Homo sapiens: one gene and its partners. The protein of the gene in region 3 interacts with the protein of the main gene of each other region in a pairwise test. Each region holds a gene or a part of one and is shown on either strand. Other genes may lie near its edges. The genes, in order: PTF1A, NPHP1 and SPATA7.

Region 1 (3,751 bases), on a different chromosome or scaffold from region 3:
ATCAAATCATGTACTCAAAAACCTTCAGGAAAAGGTGTAAATAGCATTTATTGACAACGCTTAGAAATAAACCATATCTGGCAATAAATAAGCAGGACGTTTTCTGGCCAGAGTTCTCCCAACAACACAGAGTTCAGGAAAATCATAGGCTATTGCATATTTTCAGAAAATCAGGATAAGTTATATAAATTATATATTTAAAAAGAAATCATCTATTTCATCAACTCAACAGGATAATAAATAGATAAATAATAAACAGTTGATTGCCATTCGAAAAATTTGATTCTTAAATTACATTTACATTATAGATATTTACATGTACAATATGCACAGAGACATAATCAGATCTTCAGCCGAGTCTGGGACTTCTCAGGACACAAACTCAAATGGTGGTTCGTTTTCTATGTTGTTGAAGGAAGATTTGCTGTTGAGTTTTCTGGGGTCCTCTGGGGTCCAGACTTTGGCTGTTCGGATAATATTTTGTTCCTTGAGTTGTTTTTCATCAGTCCATGAGAGAGAGTGTCCTGCTAGGGGAGGGAGGCCATAATCAGGGTCGCTGGGGGAGGGGGACCCTGGACAGGTGAGAAGAGAAAACAGACTGTGAATATCCAACCACATTCCCATTGGTCCCATCAGGTCCTTTAGGACCCTTTCCTGGGTGCTCTCCGGTTATACTAGAACCACCCTCTTCCTCCACACTTCAAGTCCCCACCGTCCCCTCCCAGGAATCCGAGGAGCTGCAAGTCTGGCGGGGACGCGCGCCCTTGAGAGCCGCGGTCAACGTGGCAGAAAAATAAAAAAAAAAAAAAAAACGAGAAACGCGAGCTCGCATTCAAGTTTTTCCGTGCCCACCGACAATCCGTCGGTCCGACTGTCTGCTTGGCAGTCAGCTCCCCCAGCCCCTCCGGAGCCTTCGAGTGCCCGACCCCTTCTCCCTGAGCTGGGAAGCGGAAGCACTTACGGGTGCCCCGATGGCAGATGATGACCTTCTGGGCCTGGCTGCCCGGGCTGTCCCCGCCCAGGCGCCCGCCGCCGCCCGGCCCCCCGCAGCCGCCCGCGCCACCGCCGCGCAAGGGCAGGTCGGCCTGCACGAGCTCGCTGAGGAAGTTGATGTAGCCGATGGCCAGGCGCAGCGTGTCCACCTTGGAGAGGCGCTTCTCGTAGGGCAGCGTGGGGATGTGCGAGCGCAGCCCCTCGAAGGCGTCGTTGATGGACTGCATGCGCCGCCGCTCGCGCACGTTGGCCGCCTGCCGCAGCTGCTGCAGCTCCGCCTCGGAGCGCACCCGCCGCCGGCGCCGCGCCGCCGCAGCCGCCGCTCCGCTCAGGCCGCGCAGCCGCGCCCCGGGAGACAGTACTGCCGCCCCGGCGCACGGGTAGGCCAGGCACGAGGGCGGCGAGCCGGGCGAGTAGGGGAAGCCGCCTGGGGGCGCCCCCGTCTCGCAGCAGTAGCCGCCGCCGCCGCCGTCGTCTGGCTCACCGAGGCCCCCCGAGGACGGCGGGGCGAGCGCTAGCGGGGCGGCCGGGGGCGCGGGCTGCAGCAGCAGGCACGCCCCGTCGCGGTAGCAGTACTCGTGGAGCTGGTGGCTAAGGAACTCCACCTCGGCCTGCTCGTCCGCCAGCAGCTCATCGCCGTCCTCCAGGGGGTCCCGTGAAGACTGGTCGGTGAAGAAGTCGTCCTCGTCGAAGTACGAAGAAGGAAAGGCGTCTAGGCCCCCGGGGAAGTGCTCCAGCAACACCGCGTCCATGCTCGCCGCCGCAGTGGGCAGCGGGACTGCCGGGCTGCGCGTGTTAGTTCTTGGTGAGTTTCTAAGGCCCGTCCGAGCCCCTCCCTCCCGGGGCCCTGGCTGGGGGCAGCTAGGCGGCCGCCGGGCTGCCCGCCCCCGGGCCTCCCTGGAGTGCCCGCGGCCGCTGCGCTCTGGCCCGCGCTCGCGCTGCGCTGGGGAGGGCTGTGGCGGACTTCCTGGAGCTGAGGGCCGGCACGCGAGGATTCTTATAACAACATCCATAGGCGCGTGCCAGGGACCCATCGCGCCAGCCAATCAGAGCGCGGTGTGCCGGCGGCGAGGGGGCCCGGAGGCGCGGCGGTGGGCGGGGGTGGGGGGCGTTTTGCTCCCTTTGGGAGCTCCTGGGGCGAGGAAAAGGCGGGGTCGCGCGGCCCGGGGCTCCTCGCACCGCTCTCTTCCCTCTCCTCTGCCTCTGCATACTGGATTCTGTACCTGCCCCGCGTGCGGCTCCAGGGGCACCTGCGTCCCGCGGTGCCCGCTGCGTACCCGCGCGCGCTGAGCAGCGCCGGCTCCTTCCGCCCTGGGACTGGGGCAGCCGCGCGCCGCGTCTACACGCGGCCAGAGAAGTTCCTAGGGGTGCGCGCCGGTGGCCCAGACGGCGAGAGCGGAGCCCGCGCGGCGATCGTCCTCCTCCGCGGCAGCCTGGGCAATCTAAGGGTGCTGCCCTCAGGGACCAGGTGGGTGCATTCCGCCACCCCCTTATCCGAGGTGCGCGGGGCTCCGGCCTGGGTTCTGCTGGGGGCTTCTGTCCCATCTCTGGACTTTTCAAGGGCTTTTGCACAGTTTGCAGAGTATATGCGGGTGTCATTGGAAGGTGATCCGGGCCCACTCCCACTGCGTTCCAGACGCAACACGGGGGCTGGGAGCGCACCTATGGGACTCCGCTCTGGAGCCTGGCTGTGGTGCCTGGTGCGGGTCCCCAGCGACATCGGCTCAGTGGCTGCCTCCCCTGCCCTCCCCGGCCCGGAGAAAGGAATGGGGAGACGGGAGGGGCAGCCCCCAGAGCAGCTCAGCGGGGCGCGTTTCTTCTGAGAGCAAATCTAGACCCTAGGGATTCTGAGCAATAAACTGGATACAAAAGGAGTCCATTGAATCGTCTGCTCCGGCGCAGTCCGGAGGGAAGGCATTGAAGTTAAAGGGCAGAATGTGAATCGTTTTCAAAGCCCGAGTCTCTCACCTTTCCGACTGGCCACAGGGACCATCCCTGAATGACTTGTTTTTTTCTTTCTCGACCTTTCTTTTCTGAAAAAAAAAAAAAACACAAAACGTATGCAGCTCTGCCCCAAGACAGACTTTATCACAGACTGCGATGCAACGTGAATTCCTCTTTTTAAGAGCAACAAAGAAACACTTTCAAGGTCTGGGCAATTCCGGTTAAAAGCCAGGCTGCAGCTTCCACCCCGGGAGAGTTCAGAAGCGCAGCCATCGTGCGTATTCTCTCTACAGAGGACTGAAAGGAGTCGTCCTCCTGGGCCGCTTCCTTTTTCAGGCACTTGTCTCACTAGAGGCTTCTGTTGGGTATTCAGACGCCTCTCAAATTCCAAGTCATGCCTCTTCAGATTAGTGATTTAAATACGCTTCTTGGTTTTAGACATTGCACTGTAATTAACTGAATTGAGAACAAAGAGTTAAACCAAAAGATATATAAGGTTAGAAGGCCAGAGATTGCCTTACCTTGAACTGCCAACAACCCCAAACAATTTTAACCCAAGGACTGACTGGTTTTCAGTAGTTTTTTCCTGTGTTAGTTTCTCAGCCTTCACAGTGAAGGAGTCGTTCACTATTTGCATATCCTTAAAGGCAAATATGGACAGTTTCCCGGTGATAGAGCCTGAGCTGTGATTCTCTGCAATTAGATTTCTCTTTCTGACCTCAAAGGAAGGGAAGGGGTGTGTGTGTGTGTGTGTGTGTGTGTGTGTGTGTGTGTGTATCAAGGCCAGAGATCTAGCCAGCTAGTGATGTGCACC
Region 2 (3,751 bases), on a different chromosome or scaffold from region 3:
TCTAATATTATTGTGTTATATTGTGTAAATTAAATCATATGCATACATCTAAGCTTTGAGGAGGGAAATCAATGTTAAAGCAATCTAAGGTCTTTATATTAGTCAAGGGAAGATTAATGATACTGATTACGTTTAGATTTAGTTGGGGTTCTTTCTTTTAAAAGTCTATTTACAGAAAACCTGAGCCAGTTAGCTCCCTTTTCCCCTCTCTGCTCTCCCTCCTTACCAGGGGATTCTTCCCTAAAAACAAAAAAACAAACAAAAACAATTAACAAACGACCTGAAGAGAATCATGACTGCTAAAGAAGTTTCCCATACACCAGGGTTAGAGCCGGCCCTATTCTGGCACTGGGGGATCCTCAGACTAAAAGCTACTTCCGAGCCTCTGATAAGCCCTATCAACATACAAAATTTCATTCTTATTCAGGGGATGGTACTAGCAGGAAGGACCCCTCTCTATCTAACAGTAGAAAAGCCCATGAGAGCTCTCTGGAATAATCAACCTAGTCCCTCATTGTTCAATAAAAATAGATAAGCCAGACCTAATAAAGAAAACCGGCAACGTGAAGATAAAATTTAAGAATAACCAAATATAAATTAATTAATTAACTAATTAAAAGGAATCTGAGCCCAGAGAAAGCAAAGACAATTCAGAGAACAGAAGAGAACTTAAGGAGAAAAAAAAAGCCTCCTAGTCATGGAAGTAGTAAGAAGGCAATCAATATGAAAACAGGAACATGATGCTATGAAAAAAGAACAATTCGAGAACAAGAGAAAACACTTGTAAATTAACAACATGACTGATGATGGCCAGGCACGGTGGCTCACGTAATCCCAGCACTTTGGGAGGCCATGATGGGTGGATCACCTGAAGTCGGGAGTTTGAGAGCAGCCTGGCCAACATGGTGAAACTCCGTCTCTACTAAAAATACAAAAAATTAGCCGAGTGTGATGGCGTGAGCCTGTAATCCCAGCTACTCAGAAGGCTAAGGCAGGAGAATCGCTTGAACCCAGGAGGCAGAGGTTGCAGTGAGCCAAGATCATGACAGAGTGAGACTCCATCTTAAAAAAAAAAAAACCAATATGACTGCTGAAATAAAACAATATGGCTGTTGAAATAGGTAATAAAGAAAAGTGTTAAAGTCAAGAGAATTGCTAGCATGGTAGCTCGTGGCGGGGGAGGGGGGCATCCCTTGAGCCTGGGAGGCAGAAGGTGCAGTGAGCCATGATTGTGCCACTTCATTACAGCCTGAACGACAGAGTGAGACCCCCCACATCCCCCCAAAAAAACATCTCCCATACAAACAAAGAAACAGAAACTATTAACAGGAAGTTATGGGATATAGAGGATCAGTCCAGGATATCCAATACCTGACTCAAAGGTGTTTCAGGAAGAAACAGACAAATGGAATTAACGAAATAATCTTTTTGTAAAATAAAATCTCCCAGAGCTCATGAGACATGAGTTTTCAAACTGAAAAGACTCAGAGCACTGAGCAGATAAAAATGATACCTAAATGACATTTTCAGATATGCAAATGTCAAAGTGAGTTTTTAAATGACAGTAACAATCTTCTTTTCATGCACAGAGAAGACTATGGTTACTTGGGCTTAAAAATAATTATTAGGGGCCGGGCGCGGTGGCTCACGCCTATAATCCCAGCACTTTGGGAGGCCAAAGCAGGGGGCATGAGGTCAGGAGATTGAGACCATCCTGGCTAGCACGGTGAAACCCCATCTCTACTAAAAATACAAAAAATTAGCCAGGCATGGTGGCGGGCACCTGTAATCCCAGCTACTCGGGAGGCTGAGGCAGGAGAATCGCTTGAACCTGGGAGGTGGAGCTTGCAGTGAGCCGAGATCATGCCACTGCACTCCAGCCTGGGCGACAGAGAGAGACTCTATCTCAAAAAAAATAAAACATAACAATTATTAGGCTGGGCACAGTGGCTCACACCTATAATCCCAGCACTTTGGGAGGCCAAGGCTGGGGGATCCCTTGAGGTCAGGAGTTCGAAACCAGCCTGGCCAACGTGATGAAACCCATCTCTACTCAAAATACAAAATCCAGCCAGGTGTGGTGGGGCACGACTGTAATCCCAACTACTCAAGAGCCTGAGGCAGAAGAATCGCTTGAACCTGGGAGGTGCAGGTTGCAATGAGCCGAGATTGCGCCACTGCACTCCAGCCTGGGTGACAGAGTGAGATTTAGTCTCAAAAAATAAAATAATAATAATTATGATTTTTAGTTTACTAACATAAAATTTAAAAACGTAGTTTTCCCTTGGCCTTCAAATTCAGTCTATAAATCTTACTCTGTTTTTAAATCTAGTAAAGCAAGAACAATAACCTTTGCTTTTCTTTCATTACTGTTAATTCAGCTTGAACTAAATCCCTTAATCAATCCTACTATTATAAATTAAATTCATTTGACATTTCAAAATTCATTTGTTTTGCCTTTAAGCACTCTGAATGCCTGACTTAAGTAAAACTTCTCCAAACAATTACAATTCACTTAAATTAATAGAATGAATCTCATGTTCTTTGGAATGTAATAAAATCCTTAAATATCTCAAAAACAAAGATTATCTTAATGATGTCCTAAACTTAATACAAATGTTATGAATTAATAGTCTAAATTTGATGTAGTTCATCACGTCTATTTAAACTCTCCCAAGGATTTTTTTTTAAGTAAAAACAAATACAAAACAAAAAACACCCACCTAGAAAACAGTGTTGTCTTCTCATGGGAGTTAAAGTTGACATCCCAATGAAGTACTAATTGCTTATAGACAGAGGTTTCTGACCAGGTCACAGGATCTGGGCTACATAGGCTAAGGATTTAGGGTAATCCTGCCCATGTCACCTATGTTTACATTAAGCAGTTTTTATAGTTGCTGTCACAACAGCAAGTCCGCAACCATCAGGTTTAGGTTGGTTTCTTCTACATTCAACTTACAACACTATGTGATTCTTCCATTTGATTCCAAAGGACCAATCTCTATGCCTTAAATACTATGCATTGAAATGTAAGTGCGGTTCCTGTAAAGCTTATATAATTTAGCATACTTTACCTTTGATAAATATGTTGTCTTTTATTGGGTTCTAGAGCTTCTTTCAGTTGGCTCTCAGAAAGCAAACTATCAACCTATGGAGACCATTTAAAATATCACATTATTAAATACCATATCGCCTTAGGAAAGAAAACTTCTTTTTTTATCCAATATTTTATAATGAACACTTTTAAACATACAACAAAGTTTTAAAAATTTTACAGTGAAAACCCATATACCCGCTACCTAGAAAAAACATTAACATTATACTATACTTATTTGATCTATCCGTCAACCCACCTTATGCCTTTCAAAGTAAGTTGCAGTTATCAATACATTTCTCCCTAAATAATGGACTATGGATGTCACTAACTAAAGTTCAATAGTTGATGTAAAATATGTATATAGTGAAATGCACAAATACGAGGCATACATTTGCTGAGTTTCGACAAATGCATACATCTGTGTAACCAAAATTCTTATCAAGATGTAGAAAACTACCATCACCCTAGTAAGTTCCCTCATGCCCTTGCCAGTAAATCCCCTCCTTATTCCTCCACAGACAAACCTGTTTTGATATTTTTCCAACATAAATTAGTTTTGCCTGTTCTTGAAATTTTATATAAATGGACTCATACAGTAAGCACTCTTGTGTAACCTTTCCACAAAGCATGTTTTTGAGATACTTCCATATTGTT
Region 3 (3,751 bases):
GATAGAAACCATACAGTGATTTTTATACAAGGAAAAGTTAAAGAATTGTTATACTTTCATAAAAGAGTAACTATAAGATGTAAGGGGCTGGGCGTGTCAGCTCATGCCTGTAATCTCAGCATTTTAGGAGGCTGAGGCAGGAGCATCACTTGAGGTCAGTGGTTTGTAATCAGCCTGGGTAACATAGCAAGACCCTGTCTCTAGTATATAAAACAAATTAATGAATTAATTAAAAAGATAAGAAAACTGTATTTGGTACCTAGAATTACGGGAAAGTACTCAAAGAAGGACAATTTGAAAGAGAGTTTCTCCCAAAGACTGGGGTTCAGACCTCATTAGAGAAGGCGTGATTGTGCACTTGCCCAAAGCTTCATCACCGAGGAGTGATATCGGAGGCTTCACATTCCATGGGAAATAGACTTTGATAAATTGCTTAGCCAAGTCACTAAACAAACAAGTGAACAACAATGAAAACAAGCTCAGGAGAGGATTCTGTATCTAGAGTTGCTGCAATATATTACCTAAAATGTTAACTTTTCAACAAAAAGAAATTGCAAGTCATGCAAAAAAACAAAAACAAAAAAACAGGAAAATGTGACCTATACACAGGACACAAAGGAGGAACCAGAAACTATGAGAGGGTAGATGAATTAAATCGTCTTATTTCTCCCCTCAATTCTGTTAGGTTTTTTTTTTTCCTTTCTCTTTCTTTTTTCTTTTTTCGAGACAGGGTCTTATTCTGTTACCCAGACTGGAGTGCATTGCAGCCTCCTGGGCTCAATCATCCTCCCATCTCAGCCTCCTGTGTAGCTGGGACTACAGGCACACACCACCACACCCAGCTAATTTTGTATTTTTTTGTGCAGTTAGAGTTTCGCCATGTTGTCCAGGCTGGTCTTTGAACTTCTGGGCTTAGGTGATCAGCCTGCCTCAGTCTCCCAAAGTGCTGGGATTACAAGCACGAGCCATTGTGCTCAGCCCTAATTCTGTCATTTTTAATATGACATGTATCTATAGGAATATTAGAAACCAATGAGTATATGCCTTGGTGTACGTCTGATGGTAAATAGACAAGGGAACATAGACATCAAGGAACATCTAAATTCCATGTTTGTTCTTATCACCATCTTATGCTAAAGAGCAGCTGGATTGATTCCTGGGGCCAAATATTAACCACCTTGTTCACAGCTGTCACTTACAGATGGGTGGGGAAGCATTTCTATCCAGAGCATTATCACTAGGTTCCAGCCTTTTTTCATTCTCTTTTCATCCTTTCACACTTCTCTGGGTATACCTGTTTTTCCTTTTTCTGTGACCTATAGTGAAACATACATAGAATAGAATGGAATTTGGAGGGAATAAACTACATACAGCTGAGATATCTTCTTGGTCTGTTTCACATGATTTAGTAGCTTAGAACATGGTTCAAGTACTGAGCAGTTTATATTGGTCAAGATAGTGTAATGATTAAGACCCAGGAAACAGACTGCTTGGGTTCAGATCCCAAATCTGTCACATTCTTGTGTAATCTTTGGCAAATTACAAGTTTAACCTCTGTGCTTCAATTACCCTCATCTATAAAGTAGGGAGAATTATAGTATTGTAAGGATTAAATGAATTTATACCAGCAAAGTGCTTGGAGCACTGCCTGGCAGGGTTACCACTCAATAAATTAGCCTTTTGACTACAAATGAAGAAATCAACTCATACTGGTTTAAGCTAAAATGGGAATTTTTTTTTTTTTTTGGCTAATGTAAAGAAACGTCTAGGGAAGGAAGAGCTTCAAACATGGTTGGCCTCAGGTACTCAAATGATGTCACCAAGAAATCGCTTTCTATCTTGGTTCCACTTGACTGTGTAGGCTTCATTCTCAGACAGGTTCCTTTATAAGGTTCAGGATGGCCACCAGCAATACAGGGCTTGCTTAGACCCTTCACTGGGTTTAGCAAGCCCAGTGAAATGAAAGTACCTTTCCTAATAGTTCCTGTCAAAGGCCCAGGATTGTGTATCTCATGTTGGGACTTGGATCGCATAGCATTGCTGACGCTGTCAACACAGCTGTCCACATTTGGGTTTTATGCCTAACCCTGACAGTGGGGTCAGCTCTATTTGAACCACCTGGGCTAAGAGTAAGGGAAGAGTCGCCCAAAGGAAAGTTGAGTTGTCATTTCCAGGTGAAGAGGCATTGAATTCTGGACAAGAAAAAAGTCACAGTTCTTTCTATCTGGAGAAATGAGGTTTTTCTGAGAGTTTGTTGGTATTTTTTCTTATGTTTAGGTCTTACCCTCCTTCTTTCTTGGTAGAAGCTATGCTCATTTCATGACTATCTTTTTTCCCAGTTCAGATGGCATCACCTTGACTTGTATTGTCCTAAATATTTTTTTCCTTCCTGCACTCTGACCTGTGACATAGAAAGAGCTTCATAGATATTCTGACCTCAGTTTGTTTTTCTGTTTTAATCTATTCTGACAAGCTTTGTTCTCTGGTCTTAGATTTTAGTTCTCCTAGCTCGATACTTCTTTTTTCTATATTTAGTCATCCATATATCTTCTAGACTTTCTATGTGTCCTCCTTGTTATAGCTTTTAACAGCCCACCTGATAGCAAACTAGCCATCTTACCCTCTTAAAACATCTCTGTTTGGGGGATAAAGCATTTATATTTTGCATATTAAATTACATTTAATGCTGTAACTCAGACTTCCTGTTTTGGAGATTACTACTAAAAACGCAATCACCTTTTAGGAAAGAAATTATTTTGTGATAAATTTATTATTTAAAAAATATTGAATATTGTTGTTTTTGTAAAAGTTGTGTTTCATTTATCCTAATTTATGATTTTTTTTTCTTGTTAAAAGTCAGAGCAACCTCTGTCCTTCCCAGATATGGTCCACCGTGCCTATTTAAAGGACACTTGAGCACCAAAAGTAATGGTAAGTGAGGTGCTTAAAACGGCAGCTTTGTTAGAAGATTGTCTGAGTGTTTCCTTTACTGGCAAATTATATGACATGATGGAAAAATTGTTTCATTTGACGAATATTTGAACTTCATATTATTAATTTTAATGAAATATAGGCGTTCTTGAGATTAGAGAATTTTGGAGTCTATGATTTCAAACTATTATTGTGCCCTGGATGTGGACTTGGCTGTCTCCTGCTCCCAGCTGCTACAGCAGCCCAGCTCTACTTTTGCCAGGAAACTACCCTGATTTAAGGCATACCTGCCTTGTTAAAATGGTGAGTAGCAGGTATTAAAGACGCAAGCACTGAAAAGGAAAAGCTGTGCAGAGAAAAAGAGCACTTGAATAATACATTTCCTATTAGGAGCAAAGGCCTATGGGCCTCTTTATCCAACTGGATTTCTAGGTGCTGTGATATTTTTATATTTTAAAGCTTTCAAGGTACATTTTTAAGGTAGGTTTTAAAATAAATTTTTGTAATTATACCTTAGAAGTATAAGTCTATGTCCTTAGGCAAAATAATTAAAGCCTTATTTTCCTTATTTACAGGAAAAATCTTTGATACTGTTACCTCCAAATGTGGTGGAAGGATCTCATTTTCAGTTGCCTCACTTATTTCTTTGTATTACAGTGTATTTTTTAAAGTTTATGATTGTGGCTATGTATGTATGTAACATATATATGTATGTAACATAGCCATAATGATAAACTTTAAAAACTAAATTTTAAATAAAAAGTTAAAACTAGATTTAAAATATACATACATAGAAATCAGGATAAAGAACAATATGTAA

Evidence for each region.
Region 1: the proteins of SPATA7 (region 3) and PTF1A interact in a two-hybrid assay, tested with the Homo sapiens proteins (one study listed by BioGRID).
Region 2: the proteins of SPATA7 (region 3) and NPHP1 interact in a protein complementation assay, tested with the Homo sapiens proteins (one study listed by IntAct).

Annotation. Positions count from the first base shown.
Region 1 is NC_000010.11:23,190,525-23,194,275, reverse strand, and holds PTF1A (pancreas transcription factor 1 subunit alpha), read right to left. Parts: upstream 1,965-3,751; 5' UTR 1,746-1,964; coding exon 962-1,745; intron 573-961; coding exon 370-572; 3' UTR 31-369; downstream 1-30. UniProt on the Homo sapiens protein: Transcription factor implicated in the cell fate determination in various organs. Binds to the E-box consensus sequence 5'-CANNTG-3'. Plays a role in early and late pancreas development and differentiation.
Region 2 is NC_000002.12:110,198,347-110,202,097, forward strand, and holds part of NPHP1 (nephrocystin-1), read right to left. Parts: intron 3,149-3,751; coding exon 3,075-3,148; intron 1-3,074. UniProt on the Homo sapiens protein: Together with BCAR1 it may play a role in the control of epithelial cell polarity. Involved in the organization of apical junctions in kidney cells together with NPHP4 and RPGRIP1L/NPHP8. Does not seem to be strictly required for ciliogenesis.
Region 3 is NC_000014.9:88,388,525-88,392,275, forward strand, and holds part of SPATA7 (spermatogenesis-associated protein 7), read left to right. Parts: intron 1-2,856; coding exon 2,857-2,931; intron 2,932-3,751. UniProt on the Homo sapiens protein: Involved in the maintenance of both rod and cone photoreceptor cells.